Regions from separate parts of the Homo sapiens genome. Here region 1 is linked to region 2. The links come from fine-mapping of genetic effects on gene expression. Tissue or cell type: whole blood. Region 2 holds a variant in brackets; the other region holds the start of a gene. All regions are shown on one strand. Distances are from middle to middle.

Region 1 (8,000 bases), 180 kb before region 2:
GCTAACTGCAACCTCCGCCTCCCGGGTTCAAGTGATTCTCCTGCCTCAGCCTCCTGAGTAGCTGGGATTACAGGCGTGTACTACCACGCCCAGCTATTTTTTTGTATTTTTAGTAGAAACAGGGTTTCGCCATGTTGGCCAGGCTGATCTGGAACTCCTGACCTCAGGTGATCCACCTGCCAAAGTGCTGGGATTACAGCCGTGAGCCACCGTGCCTGGCCAAATTTCTGTTGTTTTAAGTCACCAAGTTAGAGCAGCCACAGGGCACTAATACAGTCCTCTAAATAGCCTGTGTGATCCGGCCCTGGCCCGTGTTGCCAATCTCACCCTTACTCACTTGGCTCTAGCCCTACCAAGGACCTTTTTCTGTTCTCAAAACTGGTCCAGCCTCAGGGCTCCTGCACTTATTAAATTCTTCCCCCAGAATTCCCAAGGCTAGCCCCTACTCATGATTTGGGTCTCTGCATAAATGTCACCTCTTCCCACAGGTCTTCCTTGACCACCTTAACCCAGAAATCACCTGTGGGTGACTCTGTGTCACATTCCCCCATTTTACTTTAGTCACAGCGTTTGTCACTATCTGAAAGTATTATTCCTCCCGGGTTTATTACTTCTCATCCCCACCAGACAGTGGGATCCAACGACTGAAATCCTATCATTTGTGGCAACACAGATGAACCTGGAGGACATCATGTGAGTGAAATAAGCCAGGCATAGAAAGACAAACACCACGTGGTCTCTCTCATATGTGGAATGAAATAAAGAAGTTGATCTCGGCCAGGTGCAGTGGCTCACGCCTGTAATCCCAGCACTTTGGGAGGCCAAGACAGGTGGATCACCTGATTTCAGGAGTTTGATACCAGCCTGGCCAACATGGTGAAACCTTGTCTCTACTAAAATTACAAAAAATTAGCTTAGCGTGCTGGCGGGCGCCTGTAATCCGAGCTACTCAGGCAAGAGAATTGCTTGAACCTGGGAGGCGGAGGTTGCAGTGAGCCGAGGTCGCGCCATTGCACTCCAGACTGGGCAACAAGAGCAAAACGCCATCTCAAATAAATAAATAAATAAATTGATCTCATAGTAGAGTAGAATAGTGGTTACAGGAGGCTGGGGTGTAGTGGGAGGATACAAAGAGGTTGGTTAACAGGTACAAAGTTACAGTTAGGGCTGGGCATGGTGGCTCACACCTGTAATTCCAGCACTTTGAAAGGCCAAGGCGGGTGGATCGCTTGAGGCCAGGAGTGCGAAACCAGTCTGGGCAACATGGAGAGACCCCATCTCTACAAAAAAATTTAAAAAAATTAGTCAGGGCTGGGCCCAGTGGCTGATGCCTGTAATCCCAGCCCTTTGGGAGGCCAAGGTGGGCGGATCACAAGACCAGCCTGGCCAACATGGTGAAACCCAGTCTCTATTACAGATACAAAAAATTAGCTGGGCATGGTGGCTCGAGCCTGTAATTCCAGCAAGACTCCATCTCAAAAAAAAAAAAAAATTAGTTGGGCATGGTGGCGTGCACCTGTAGTCCTAGCTACTAGGGAGGCTGAGGTGAGAAGATCACTTGAGCCTAGGGGTTGGAGGCTGCAGTAGGCTATGATCATGCCACTGCCCTCCAGCCTGGGTGACAGAGTGGGACCTCGCCTCAAAATAAATAAAAGTAAAAAGAAAAAAATACCAATATTGTACATTTCTTTTCTTTTTTTGTTTTTGTTTTTAGATGGAGTCTGGCTCTGTCACCCAGGCTGGAGTGCAGTGGCATGATTTCAGCTCACTGCAACCTCTGCCTCCCTGGGTTCGAGTGATTCTCCTGTCTCAGCCTCCTGTGTAGCTGGGACTACAGGCACCCACCATCATGCCTGGCTAATTTTTTTGTATTTTTGTAGAGACAGGGTTTTGCCATGTTGACCAGGCTGGTCTCAAACTCATGACCTCTGGTGATCTGCCTGCCTTGGCCTCCCAAAGTGCTGGGATTATAGGCGTGAGCCACAGCGCCTGGCCCTAATATTGTATATTTCAAAATATGGTAGCTAGAAGTGGGGATTTTGAATGTTCTCACCCCAAAGAAGCCATAAATGTATGAGGTGATGGATATGCTAAGTACCTTGATTTGATTTTTTTACACAACGTACACAGGTACCAAAACATCACATGGTACCCCATATTTAGGTACAATTATAGGTTGCCGAAAAAGTAATTGCGGTTTTTGCTATACTTTTATATGCAAAAACCGTATAACTTTTGCACCAACCTAATATTACATGTCAGTTAAAAACAATTTTTTAAGTGGCTCTCTTTTTAAGTGGGTATTTGGGAAAAAAAAAATGTGGGAGCCAAGAAGGCCTTGTCTACTTCGTTTCCTGCTGTATCCACAGGGCCTGGCATGTAGTAGGTGTTCAGCAAACATTGGTTGATGAATGCATGATGACCTATCTGTGCAAACCTCTAGGCTCAAGAGGTGTGTGTGTGTGTGTAAGTATTTTAGGGTGCATGTGTGGCAATGAAACTGTATATGACCTCCCATCTTCTGAGTGACCCCTCCTCCCTCACGCTGTCAGGAGCTTTCTGGGGAATATTTCATTTATTCCCTACAACGCTCTGTGAGGCAGGTTTCCTTCGTATCTATATGACAGACGAGGAAACTGAGGCTCCGCGATCATCTAAGTTATATAAAATATGTTCAGAAGTGAAAACAGCATTAATAGGCAGAAAAGGACCTCCCCCTTCTACCGCTTACCCACCGCTTACCCAGACCCTCCCCTTCCCCGCGCTGGGTCTCCCAGGATTCTTCTTTACTTTCTTTTCTATAAAATACAGACGGGGGGAGGGGGGGCGTCTCACTGTGTTACCCAGGCTGGTCTCGAACTCTTGGCCTGAAATTATCCTTTCACCTTAGCCTCCCAAAGTGCTGCGATCAGAGGCAGGAGCCACCGCATCCAGCCTTCTCCCGGGACTCTTCAAGAGTCGCTGCGCCGGGGCCTAGGCCGAGGGTGCACAGCGCGTAGAAAGCGCCTGGGAGAGCGGTGTCCCCCGCGAGCTACCACAAGTTTATCCCTAGGCGCGGAAGCTACCACGGCCTGGGCGAGAGCCGGGAAATTCCCAGCGGGCGGCTTGCCCCGGGGGAGGCCGGCGAAGCGGTCTAGGCTGGTGCTGGCGGAGCCGATTCACGGACCCGGGGTTGTTTACTGGTCCGGGGAGTGGACGCGGCTGCCCACGAACCGGTCGCGGCTGGGGCGGCGGCGGCGAGCAAAGGGTTAAGGGGGCGGCCCCGGCGGCGGGGGCGGAGCCGGGATCTCGGCCGCACCTGGCGCCCCAGGCTCCCAGCCCCGACGCCTCCTGCAGCGCCTGGAGCCACACAGGGATCCGGAGCCTGGGGGAAAAGCGGCGCGGGAGCCGGCACCCACCGCTGGAGGGGCGGCGACGGCGGCCGTAGCGACCTCGGGAGGCAAGCGGAGCCGCCATGGCCGAGTTCCCGTCGAAAGTTAGCACGCGGACCAGCAGTCCTGCGCAGGGCGCCGAAGCCTCGGTGTCGGCGCTGCGCCCGGACCTGGGCTTCGTGCGCTCCCGCCTCGGGGCGCTCATGCTGCTGCAGCTGGTGAGAGCACGCGCGGGCCCACGGGGTTGGCCGGGGGCTCCCGGTCCGGCCAGGATGGGTGAGGGACTCCGGCGCTGCGTTCATTTTTCGCGAACCTTGCGCTCCCCACCCGGGCTCACACTGTCACCGACGCGCTGCGCGTACCCCTAGGGCGCTTCCCGCACGGACGCCCCCAAGATCGCCCTGCATCCCTCTCACCACGACACTACCCCGTGGCCGTCGCTGCGAGCGTGAGCACCCTGCACCGTGTACAGAGTGCCCACTGCCCGTGCCCCATCGTGCCCCCTCCAAGGTGGTTACCAGCGGCCACAGAAGCCCCCACCGGAGCCACAGTCACTGCGCACAACCCGCCAACCCTTCCCAGCCCTCCCTTCCCTCCTCTCTCTTTTTCACCCCTCTTTCTGCCCGGACAGTGCCCCCAGCCCTCTAGGGAACCCAGTCTGAGGCAAAGTCCACTCTCTGACCACCTTCTGTCCCGCTCCCAGCGGCTCCGGGTGGCCGCACCCATGAACATTCCTCATCTAATCTAGAGGGCACATCCGACTCCCCAACACGCACACTCAGGCACTACCCTGTGGGCGCCCGCGCGGGAGCCGGGCTCTTCTAGCTTTCTCTGGGTGACCCGCCAGGTTTCAGCCGGTTTAGCCAGCCCCACGGGACCGAGATATCGCTGGAGGGAGGGGTTTGTGGGTAGCCAGGGGCAAGACTCCTACTCTCTCCCAGACCCCTGTACAGACCCCAACTGAGGCGGACCCATGGGAACATCCTCCACTCCCACACCAGCCACAGGCCCGGATGTTAGCTTCTTCCTCTGCCACCCTTTCGTGAGGGTCTGGAAGCTGGGTGGGTGCCCTGGGTGGGTGAGGGCCTGATACATTTTCAGAGGACTCAGGTGGAATTGGAGTTGGGCCAGGACCTGTATTTCTTAGCAATCCAGCGAGTGGACATTTCCCATTGTCTCCTATTGCTGGGTGCTAGCGCTGCTGCGAGGCCCAAGCTAGAGGGCAGGGTGGTTGCTTTGGTGCCAGACCCTGGGCTGAGGTCCAGTCTCCCTTCCCTGACCTCTCCAGGTGCGGGCCCACCTCTACCTGGGTCAGTGCTATCTCATTTCAGGATTTCTCAGATCTCTGTGGGCCCCCTCCCCAACCTCTGAATCTCCTGGCGGGTTTGTTTAAAATTTAGATTATTGGACTCCACCCCCGGAAAAAAATGTGCAATCGGAATTTGAATCTCAGGAAGTACAGCCAGAAATTCATTTTTAACAGTTCTCCCAGAGTTTTTTGTTTGTTTCTCTTTTGGGGGGTGGGGGAGAAGGGGAGAAGATTCTGTCTTCTGAGGGAAGAGGTCTAGTTCCTGGAATCATTTAATTCTGCAGATGGGGAGAGCCACTGACCCCGCCACCGCTAGAATGCTCTGCTCTGGGCTGGTTGTGAGGGGCACAGCCATGAGCAGCTGCCTGGCTGCCCAGGGGAGAGCCAGGTGGGTGTGAGAAGTGGTGCGAAAGGGCAGAGGAGAAGGAGAGCAATTTCACGACCAGGAAGGCTTGTTGGAGGAGGTGGTTTTTGAGCAGAGACTTCACTGAAATCTGAGGCAGACGCAGGGAAAGGGTGTTCCAAGGGCAGGGAACAGTGTGAGCCAAGATGTGGTGATGAGAAAGTTGAATTAATTTGCAGGGAGTAGCCAACAGGTTGGTGGTGCTGGAGTTGAAGCACTTGTTTCTGGTGTGGACAGAAGCCAAGGGCCTTGTGTAACTTCTGCGAGCTACAGGGTCTAGGTTCTGTTGGTGGCCTTAAGAGGTTTTGGAACAGAAGAGGGATCTTGCTGGGTGGAGGATGATGACTGGCAAGATCCCTGTGAGGGATCCCTCAGCATCCCTGGTGAGGTGGATCCTGAGGCTGGCCCCTGATGGACAGGAGGATTGCTTGTGGCCAGAAGTTCAAGACCAGCCTGGGCAACATATTGAGACCCTGTCTCTACAAAAAAAAGGAAAAAAAAAATAGCCAGGCATGGTGGTATGCGCCTGTGGTCTCAGCTACTTGGGAGGCTGAGGTAGGAGGACCCCTTGTGCCTGGGAGTTTGAGGCTACAGTGACTTTGATCGCACCACTGCACTCCAGCCTGGGTGACAGAATGAGACTTTGTCTCAAACAGACAAACACACACACAAAAAAAAAAAAAGAAAAGAAAAAAGAAAGAGACTAGCAATAGGGGCAATAGGGGGAATGGAAGGCATTGGAGTAAGAGGAGGATGTTGCTGCTGTGGGCCGCAAGGGTCTTGGTAGCTTCCTCTAGGGCAGGCTTGTGTTCCTGATTGGGGTTGGGATGGGTGGGGGCATCCCCTGTGGCCTCAGCAATCCAGCCCTGCGCATCTGGGTCCCATTACACAGACGTAGACATTGAGGTCTAGTTAGAAGGACTTGCCAGGAGTCCTGTAATAGAGCTTGGCACTTGGGTCTCTTGACTCTCAGGGACTGGGTGTGAGGGAAGTGGGCTCCTTTTGCTCCCTACCTGCAGTGCCTTTGAGGGGATGAGGGTCTTCCATCAGAGTTCTGAAAATGACCTGCACATTTTAGTGCCTTAGAAATCTGCTTGTTGGGGCCAGGTGTGGTGGCTCACGCCTGTAATCCCAGCACTTTGGGAGGCCGAGGTGGGCAGATCACGAGGTCAGGAGACGGAGACCATCCCGGCTAACAGGGTGAAACCCCATCTCTACTAAAAATACAACAAAATTAGCCTGGCATGGTGGTGGGTGCCTGCAGTCCCAGCTACTCGGGAGGCTGAGGCGGGAGAATGGCGTGAACCCGGGAGGTGGAGCTTGCAGTGAGCCGAGATGGCGCCACGGCACTCCAGCCTGGGAGACAGAAAGAGACTCCGTCTCAAAAAAAAAAAGAAATAAAAAAAAAATCTGCTTGTTGGAGAAGCTGCATCCTGAGCTGTTTCTCTGGCAACAGGTAGTTCCACTGGGTCTGAAATGGGATATGTGGGGGTTAATCCAACAGGCACCACCATCTGCTGGGAAGCCATGGTAGCTCCCATCTATCAGGCCAGCACTAGGCTCAGGCCCTTTGCCAAGGCCTTTAGATCTTCTTAGTCGGCCCCATTTTAGGTGAGAAAACTGAGGCTCAGAGGCCAGTTCTTTGCCCAAGATCTCACAGCCCTCCTCCACAGGAGTGATTTTTCTGACTTTTCTGGCCTATGGTCTTAATGACCACGTGTGGCTTTGCTGCTACCTTCCCAGGATCTGTCATTATGGAGGGAGTGGTGGGGACCCTGGGCCCACAGCCTGCTTTCCAGGAGCTCTTGGTCAGTGAGAGAGGTGCCCAGAGGATGTGCTTCTCCCAGAGGGATCAGAGAAGGCTGCATGGAGCAGGAAATAAATGAGAAAATGGAAGCTAATTCTCCATCAAACCCTTCTGTTTCCCAGGATTTGATGAATGTTCCTGGTATGGTGGGAGGAAGGGGAGGTGGGTAGAAAGGCTCCCAGCTCCTGGAGAAGGAGATACACTTTTCATTCGGTATCAGAATGTGTCCTGAAGAACCAATCTCAGTATTCTTCACAGATGTCTGGTGGTGTTCATTGATTTATCACTATCGTTATTCCTTGTAGATTCAGAAAGAACACCAGATGGAATATGATATTAAACCACATAAGACAGAAGAGTTAAAGCGATGTATCTTTAAAAGCTGGTGGTGTGGAGGGGAGAATTGACTTGCAGCAAGTTTAAGGCTGTTGATTATTTGTTGAACTTCCTAGCAGCCTAGGCAAAAAGGGAAACATGAAGAATCTATGCAGATAGCGTCTAAAAAAGGAGGCAGGTCTTTGTTTTGTTTTGTTTTGTTTTCTCTTGCCAATGGATTCATGTCACAAGGCAGGCAAGTTTGATCTACAGATAACTCTTTTGGTTTTAAAAAAAAAAGGCATCAGTGCTACAGATTTTTGTGTAGCTCAGGTGGAAGAATGCAGAAGGCGTGGTTATTTGCTTATGGGGAGCTCCCAAAGCCTTTTTACAATAAGTATAAAGTAGTGCTGTTAGGTGCCCATCTCTCATTTTTTCAAGCCTCCCCAAGCCGTGGGGAGAAGGATGATCTTATCTGGATTTACTGATAAGTAAATAGGCTCCGAGAGGGTGAGGAACTTGTCCAAGGTCACACAGGATAGAGTGGCAAGCTTGGCTTTGCACTTCGATCTGGAAATCCAAAACCTGGCTCTAGCTATGCTTCCTCATCTTGTTTACTTTGGGGGTGGGAAGTTCTAGAGTGCTTTCTAGGGGGAAAAGGGGGACTGCAGGAAGGGAGACTCATCAGGGGCCAAGGCCATCAGGGAGGGCTTCCTGGCATAGGAAGGGAGAAGGAGGATCAGGACAGACCAGAGCTTGTACAGAGACCTGTCAGTCAGTAGGCGTCCTTGAGGC
Region 2 (8,344 bases):
CACCAGCCCACACTCCAACTACTTCCATCAGACATCCTGGATCCCAGTCCTGGGAGACTCCCCCTCCCCAGCAGCCTAGCCACCCCCTTACCCACCGCAGACACACGGAAGAGCCTCACCTCGATCCATCTGCCATTGTTCTCTGTAAAGAGGACACAGAAGGGGTCGGACTTGGAGGTAACATCCCGGTCCAGTAGGTTCTGGCCACTCACTGACAGCTCCACCTTGCACACGCAATACTGGGGGCCCATGGGGGCTGCCCCCGCTGCTGGGGCACCCCCACTGGGTATGTGGGCCATGGGAGCCGGTGGCGGTGGCAGGAGTTCCTGGCAGTCTAGGGGAACAGAAGTGAGGGTCAGAGAGTGGACAGACACCTGCTATGCTGCCCCACCATAGGGAGGCATTACCACCTGGCCTTTAAGAGGTGAGTGGAGAGATGGAAGGCAAATTGAGGCGGGTTGTCAAATAACATAGGCAAAGGTTTGAAGAAAGAAGAATGCAAGGAAATGCATGAAAAGGGAGTCTCAGCTGAGCGCAGTGGCTCACGCCTATAATCTCAGCACTTGGGGAGGTCAAGTGCCTGGAAGCCCGGAGTTCAAGACCAGCCTGGCAACAAGGAGGATCCTGTCTCTGCAAAAAATATTTAAAAATCAGCTAGACATGGTGGTGCGTGCCTGTGGTCCCAGCTACTTGGGAGGCTGAGGCAGGAGGATTGCTTGAGGCCAGTAGTTCAAGGTTGCAGTGAGCCGTGATTGCACGTCTCTGCACTCCAGCCTAGGCGACAGAATGATACCATCTCAAAAAAAAAAAAAAAAAAGAAAAGAAAAGAAAAAAGAGTCTCTGTCTCTGGTAGCTGTGTTAAATTTGTCTTTGAAGTTTTTCTCTGCTGTGGTCAGTCTTCACCTGTAAGGATGCACAGCTCCTTGTGTGTTGCTCCGTCACATGAGCAACAAATCACAGTGGACATGGGTGTCTCAGATACTAATTGTGCCAGGAAAACCTGGGCTTCTCCTGAGCAACTAGCATGTTGGCATCTTGTGGCCACAGTGGAGCTGACAACTGCTCAGGCTTCTCTCCTTCCTACTTTGGCCACTAGGAAGCTCACTTCTGGTAACGTCAGAGGCGTTTAAACCAGAGCAACTCCATCTTGAATAGGAACTGGGTAAAATAAGGCTGAAACCTACTGGGCTGCATTCCTAGATGGTTAGGCATTCTGGGTCACAGGATGAGATAGGAGGTCAGCACAAGATACAGGGCATAAAGACCTTGCTGATAAAACAGGCTGCAGTAAAGAAGCCAGCACCAAAACCAAGACGGCCATGAGAGTGACCTCTGGTCGTCCTCACTGCTACACTTCCACCAGGGCCATGACAGTTTACAAATGCCATGGCAACATCAGGAAGTGACCCTATATGGTCTAAAAAGGGGAGGCATGAATAATCTGCCACTTGTTTAGTATATCATCAAGAAATAACCATAAACATGGGCAACCAGCAGCCCTTGGGGCTACTCTGTCTATGGAGTAGCCATTCTTTTATTCCTTTACTTTCTTTTTTTTTTTTTTTTGAGGCAGAGTCTGGCTCTGTCACCCAGGCTGAAGTGCAGTGGCATGATGTCAGCTCACTGCAACCTCCACCTCCTGGGTTCAAGCAATTCTTCTGCCTCAGCCGCCCGAGTAACTGGGACTACAGGCACCCACAACCACGCAAGGGTAATTTTTGTATTTTTAGTAGAGACGAGGTTTCACCACATTGACCAGGCTGGTCTCAAACTCCCGACCTCAGGTGATCCACCCACCTGGGTCTCCCAAATGTGCTGGGATTACAGGCATGAGCCACCGCGCCTGGCTATTCCTTTACTTTCTTAATAAATTTGCTTTCACTTTATGGACTCGTCCTGAATTTCTTCTTGCACAAGATCCAAGAACCCTCTCTTGGGGTCTGGATCGGGACCCCTTTCCTGTAACAGTAACATTAAAAATTCACCCTTGTTCATTGTCTATCACCTTCACCCTGTATCTCTAGCTCATACACAATGACTGGTGCACAGGAAGCATCCAGTATATACTTGCTGAATGAAAAAAGGATGAGTGTATAAATGAATGAATGGACAAACCCTCCATATGCCTCAGATCCTGCCAGCATTGGTCCTTATCTTCAACACACAATTTACCCTTTCACTCATATACAATTTCCCAAAATTCTGTGCCCTGGGCCTCAAGTATCTTCCTCCAGTCAAGGTTAATTACTGACATGTGATCAGTCGAAGGACTTCTGTTTTCCTTTGAGTGCAAGGTGTGAGTGAGACTGGAGCAACCCATCTCAAGGGGTGGAGGGGGACCTAGGTCACACCCATCACAGGCCCAGCAGACAAGTCCTCTGGCTTTCTCTGCCTCAGTTTCCCATCTGCCCATGAGACATCAGGACACAGCCCTTTGAGCCTCCTGTGGTCAGGTCTCATTTCCACTGGCATGTGTGCATTTAACACTGGCCCTGTCATCCCAGTGGTTGAACCTAGCCCCTAAACACCTACCCAACAATGGCCAGGTTCCAACTCCCTAATACTTTGTCCTCCTGAGGCTAAGTGGTTTACTGACCCTGAACTTCTCCAGTGGAGGGAAGTAAGTGGGGGTGGTGGGTGGGCCCCCTCTGGGAACACAAATCCAAGTCACTGTGCTTGTGAGCACTAATTGAGCATGTCACCTGAACAATGTCACTAATCCTCACTCAGTCTTACGAGGCAAGTATAGTAATATAATTTTCCAGAGGAGGAAACTGAGGCTTTCATTCACTCTAGAGGGTGTACTGAGCATCTATTAGGTCCCAAGAACTGTCCCAGTGCTGGGAATGCTACAGTAAGAAGACTGCTCTCGGCTGGGCATGGTGGGCTCATGCCTGTAATCCCAGCACTTTGGGAGGCCCAGGCAGGTGGATCACTTGAAGTCAGGAGTTCAAGACCAGCCTGGCCAACATGGTGAAACCCCATCTCTACTAAAAGTACAAAAATTAGCCAGCATGGTGGCGTGCACCTGTAGTCCCAGCTACTCGGGAGACTGAGGCAGGAGAATTGCTTGAACCCAGGAGGTGGAGATTGCTGTGAGCTGAGATCGCGCCACTGCACTCCAGCCTGGGCAACAGAGCAAGACACTGTCTCAAAAAAAAAAAAAAAAAAAAAAAGATTGCTCTGTCTTAGCCCGTGCAGGGCTCACAGTCCAGTCTGGCAGGAACACAATGAGGGAGCAGGGAGAGTGGCCAGGACCTGCAGGAGCTGTGGGCTCTGATAGGGTGTCTGAGTTTCATTCTGAGAGCAATGGGAAGTCTTAGAAGCAGAGAACTGACATTATCTGATTTGCGTTTTTAAAAGCTTACTTGGCCCCTTGTGGGGAGAAGGGGTTGTCAAGCTAAGGAGAAGTAGCAGAGAGACCAGTGAGGAGGCAGCTGCTGTCCTCCAGGCAGGAAGGATCGAGCCACCATCACTATGCTGGGTCCACTCCTCCTCTCTTTCACCCAGGCCACGGTGCACTCTGGAGCGCCAGCCTCTTGCTGGGCAGATGCAGTCCCCTGCAAGCCCCGGTCTGCAGGAGGCCAGGGTGAGAGTGGGGCTGGCAGCGGAGACCTCCCAGCTTCCCCTCCAGATCCAGTG[T/C]TCCCCGGACATGCCTGGCAGGGGAAAAATCTGGACAACGATGAAGCTGGTCCTCAGCCCCCTCCCTCCCAGCCTTTGTTCCTAGAACCTTGTTATAATCACACGAGCTCAGAGCATCAGGACAGCACTACAATTTGCCTGCAGGATTTATTCTTGTGTAAAAATCAGTTTCCACTGGAGGAGCTGGTGAACTGCGTTCACTCTTACTGTGTGCAGCTGGGCAGCTGTGCCAAGTTGGGGTGGGGTGGGGAAGGGGGCAGACAGGGATGTCCAAAGTCTTGCTGTGTGGCTGAGAGCGCCTTCCCATGCCTGCAGGACAATTGCCCCCATTTTAGAGATGAGGAAACTGAGGCCCAGAGAGTAAAAGTCACTTGCTTGAGGTTACAGGGCCAGGAAAAGGCAGAGACAGGATGTGAATCAGGTCTCCCAGGCCAATGCTTGGCCTTTTGCCAGGGTGGGGAGATTGCTGAACATTGTGGGACCTAGGCAGGGACAGCCAGGACATCAGCCAGGCCAGGGGAGCCTGAGGCTAAGCGGGCAGGTTGTGATCAGGGCTGGGGAAGCCAAGGGCATTCCCCCATTTGAACACACACCCAGGATGGGCCCCAGAGTATCCAAGTTCACCAGTTCCTCTGGGTCACCCAGTCCACACCCCTGCATCTCCCACCATTGCTGGCGAGGTGGATTCTAGCTCACCTACCCCCTCCTCACTTCACAGGCCCCCTCTGTGACATGTTAGATGCCACCTGGGCCACCATCTCCTGCTGCCAAATCAGACACTTCTCTTCTCATCCTGAGGGTGTCAGGCACACACGCCCAGATTCACCTGCTTCCTTGTCCATTTACACACGTGTGGTCACATATACACACATACACATACGCACCCAGACTGACAAATACAATGACAGATGCTCATATGAACACTCTGGGGTCACCTCCTTCTGTCCCCATCACTACCCTACCCCCGCCCCTCTGCCTCATCCAAGCCCCATTATCTTGCCTTGGTTACTATACCAGCCTCCTGCCTTTCCCTCCCTCCAGCCTGACTGAGGGCGTGGGCAGGAGGGACAGGTCACAGGGGCAGGGGGCGGTGGCTGGGCCAGGAGCCCCCAGCTCACTGCAACTCCACCTGGATCGGCTCAGGCCCTGGCTAGAGTGAGCAATGGGTGGGTGGGAAGGGAACTCCTCCCCGAGCCAGGGGCAGGTCCTCCCATCTCCAACTCACCCTCTGGCTGGAAGCTTCTGGATCCCCGAAACGGGGAGCACATGATGTCTGGAGTTGGGGCAGGCGGGGGGAAGAGTGGGTCCCTCTGCGCCAGCCCAGCAGCAGCCAGGCGTACTGGACCCTGAGGCCTGACGCAATGGAAAAAGAAACTACAGCTTAGGCTGGGCCAGGGGCCCCCTCCCCTCCTACCCCAGCAGGAGGGCAGGCAGGCAAGGTGTCATTAAGGGAGGGCTGGGCCTGCCATGCGCATCTGGGCACGATGGAAACACCTCTGGGGCAGCCCCCACCCCATAGGTAATTTGAGGTTTCAGGCTGGGGGATGGGATGGGGAGCCAGGGCCTGCTTAAAGCATGGTCCTGACTCCTGGCACAGATGGGCACAGCCCTTCTGGGGTGACCAGACCCCCCAGGCAAGGAGCTTGGAGAGGGGTTTATGAAACTAGTGGTCTCTTTTACAGATGGGTCAACTGAGGCAAAGAGAGGACAGGACTTGGGAATTCCCAGGCACTGATTCATTGGTTCATTCAACAAATACTCCCTGAGCACCCCGGGGCTATGCAGTTAATAAAACACACAGGAGCCAGTGGTGGCTCACACCTGTAATCTCAGCACTTTGGGAGGCTGAGGTGGAAGAATGGCTTGGGCCCAGGAGTTTGGGGCTGCGGTGAGCTGTGATTGTGCCACTGCACTCCAACCTGGGCGATAGAGCAAAACCCTGTCTTAAAAGTTAAAAAAAAAAAAAAAACCGGACACATAGGATTCAGCCCTCACAGGGTCCACTGACCCCAGCGAGGAGGCATCTTGCCCTTAGGCAGGACAGGCTTGGACATTGGTGCTGAGCCACAGGCCTAGAACATCACGGTTTTAGCCAGAAAACTAGGAATTCATCGTCCTTAATCTCCTTTTATCTTCACCTCCTATATGCCACCAGTGCTGCTGATTTCACCTTCAAGCTGCATTCAGCATCCGTCCTCTCCCCACTTCCACTATGTCAGCCCAGCCAGGCTCCCATCATCTCGTGCCCAGACACACCCTGACCCATAACAGGAATCTCTGATGCAAGCTCAGCTGCACTCTCTTTTCCACACCAGAGCCAGAGGGAGTCTTTAAACCTAGAAGTCAGATGCCACCATGGCTCTACCTGAAAGTCTTCCTGTGACCTCCTCATCCAGGTCACACAAACCCCAAATCGTGCCCAGGATGACAGGACCCTGCCTGACCTGTCCCCACTTCCTGCCACCCTCCCCCTCGCTTGCTTCCTTTGGCCCAGCTGCACTGGCCTCCCTTTGCTGTCAGGCTCTCTCCTGCCTCAGGGCCTTAGCACTTGCTGTTCCTTTTTCCAGGAATGCCTTTCTTCACAGGAAAGGTCTTACTTGTCAGCTTAATATCACATCCTCAGAGGCCTTCCCTGATCACCCAGGCTGATGTAATCTGTCTCCGCTCCATGCTGCTTCCTTCACAGATCACTGCAATGTACAATCGTTTTACATATCTGTCTATGTACCTGTGTCTGTCTGCCCCGTCCCTCAGGAGGACATCATCACTGTTTCCCCAGCACCTATGGCCGTATCTGCATATGTGAGCACCTAATCAATGAGGAAGGTGGGGGCTCGTCAGGCAGGCTCCATCATCAGCAGCCCCAGAGCAATCATAGCCACCTCCCCCTGCACACATCACTTGAGAGAATCACAGGCAGCTTCTCAAACCCTAGGGTCTGAGAGGCCAGCAGGAGAGGGACTGTGTCCTACTTCACAGGGGTGGAAACTGAGGCCCAACAAGAGGCAGTGGTTTTTTTAAGCCAGGGAAGGATGGTGACTAGGCCCAGAGCCAAGGCTGCCATCACTCCATCCTTCCCACTTTGGCTCTGCCATTTAACTGCTCTGTGACCTCTGGCAAGTTCCTTCAACTCCCTATGTCTCAGTTTCTCCCTCTGTAAAATGGGAACAAGAGTGCCTTCCGGCCGGGCGTGGTGGCTCACACCTGTGATCCCAGCACTTTGGGAGGCCGAGGCAGCTGGGATCACCTGAGGTCAGGAGTTCAAGACCAGCCTGGCCAACATGGTGGAACCCCATCTCTACTAAAAATACAAAAATTAGCTGGGCGTGGTGGTGTGTGCCCTTAATCCCAGCTACTCGGGAAGCTGAGGCAGGAGAATTGCTTGAACCTGGGAGGCGGAGGTTGCAATGAGCCTAGATTGCACCACTGCACTCCAGCCTGGGTGAGAGAGCAAGACCCCATATCAAAACAAAAACAAAAAACAACAACCAAAAAAGAGTGCTTTCCTAGGTGTTGTGAGGATTCAGTGAGGTAAAGCACTTGGAACAATAGGTAGCTTTTGCTATGATCAGTGATTCTTAATGGCTGTGAGGAGAAAGTAGCCCTGGCCCCACCGCGATGTAGAACCCGGGAACCAGCTATAGTGTAAAGGAGCTCACTGTCGGGGAGGAGCTGCTGGGCCGGCTGGGTGGGGGGACCTCCAACTTAGAAATGGGCGGAGAGGAGGGGACAGTGAGAGAGGCAGGCACAGGGAAGCAGATGGCCCAGGAGGAGGCCTGGTAACCCCGAAGGGGAGAAGAGCTGCTGGATGGTGAAGGGCAGGCCTGAGGTGGCCAGGGAGGCAGCCCCCATTCCAGAGGCTGGTGGAGAGGAGGAGCTGGGACCACAGTGGGATGTCCTGTCGTAAATTCTAGCAAGGGCACCGTGTGCTGTCAGAAAAGCACATGCAACTTGATGTGTAGAAAAGGGAAAAACAGGCCAGGTGTGGCAGCCCACGCTTATGATCCTAACACTTTGGGAGGCTGAGGTGGGAGAACTGCTTGAGGCCAGGAGTTTGAGGCCAGCCTGGGGCAACACAGTGAGATCCTGTCTCTACAAAAATAAAAAATAAAAAAATTAGCCAGGTGTGGTGGTACACACCTGTAGCTACTAGGGAGCCTGAGGCAGGAAAATTACTTGAGCCTGCAAGGTCAAGGCTGCAGTGAGCTGTGATTGTGCCACTGCGCTCGAATCTGGGTGACAGAGTGAGATCCTGTCTCTCAAAACAAAAAAAGAAAGAAAAAAATAGATTCTGTTTTGCTGGTGGCAGTAACAAAGAAAGGGGCGTGGTTGCCTGGTCACGGTCAGTACCAGGCATTAGTTAGGAACCCATTATGTGAGGTCTGAATCCCCAGCAATTCTTAATGTCTGGGGAAGAGGGGAAAGTAGATAAAAAATTTGGGGGATGTGTAAAGTTAACAGTTTACATAAAGGGGGCGAGGTTAAAACTGATTGAGAGGGCCGGGCATGGTGGCTCATACCTGTAATCCCAGCACTTGGGGAGGCTGAGGCGGGCGGATCATCCGAAGTCGGGAGCTCAAGACTAGCCTGGCCAACAAGGTGAAACCCCATCTCTACTAAAAATACAAAAATTAGCCAGGCATGGTGGTAGGTGCCTGTAATCCCAGCTACTTCAGAGGCTGAGGCAAAAGAATTGCTTGAA

What was found. PIP is the estimated chance that this variant, and not a neighbour inherited with it, causes the effect.
Region 1: it holds the start of PLLP, and the variant in region 2 is fine-mapped to the expression of PLLP in whole blood (TOPMed, PIP 0.95).

What each region holds. Positions count from the first base shown.
Region 1 is chr16:57,279,995-57,287,994 of GRCh38, reverse strand. It overlaps PLLP (plasmolipin), which reads left to right and starts at 3,323. Exons shown (of 4, transcript NM_015993.3): 1 at 3,323-3,589. The coding sequence starts at 3,455. RefSeq lists silencers at 668-880, 3,130-3,539 and an enhancer at 3,584-4,245.
Region 2 is chr16:57,102,698-57,111,041 of GRCh38, reverse strand. CPNE2 (copine 2) reads right to left here. Exons shown (of 16, transcript NM_152727.6): 2 at 120-334. The coding sequence starts at 299. Among named protein-coding and RNA genes, the nearest start is that of CPNE2, 14 kb to the right of the region's middle. RefSeq lists enhancers at 5,081-5,680, 6,960-7,915. The variant T/C (reference allele first, on the strand shown) is at 3,643.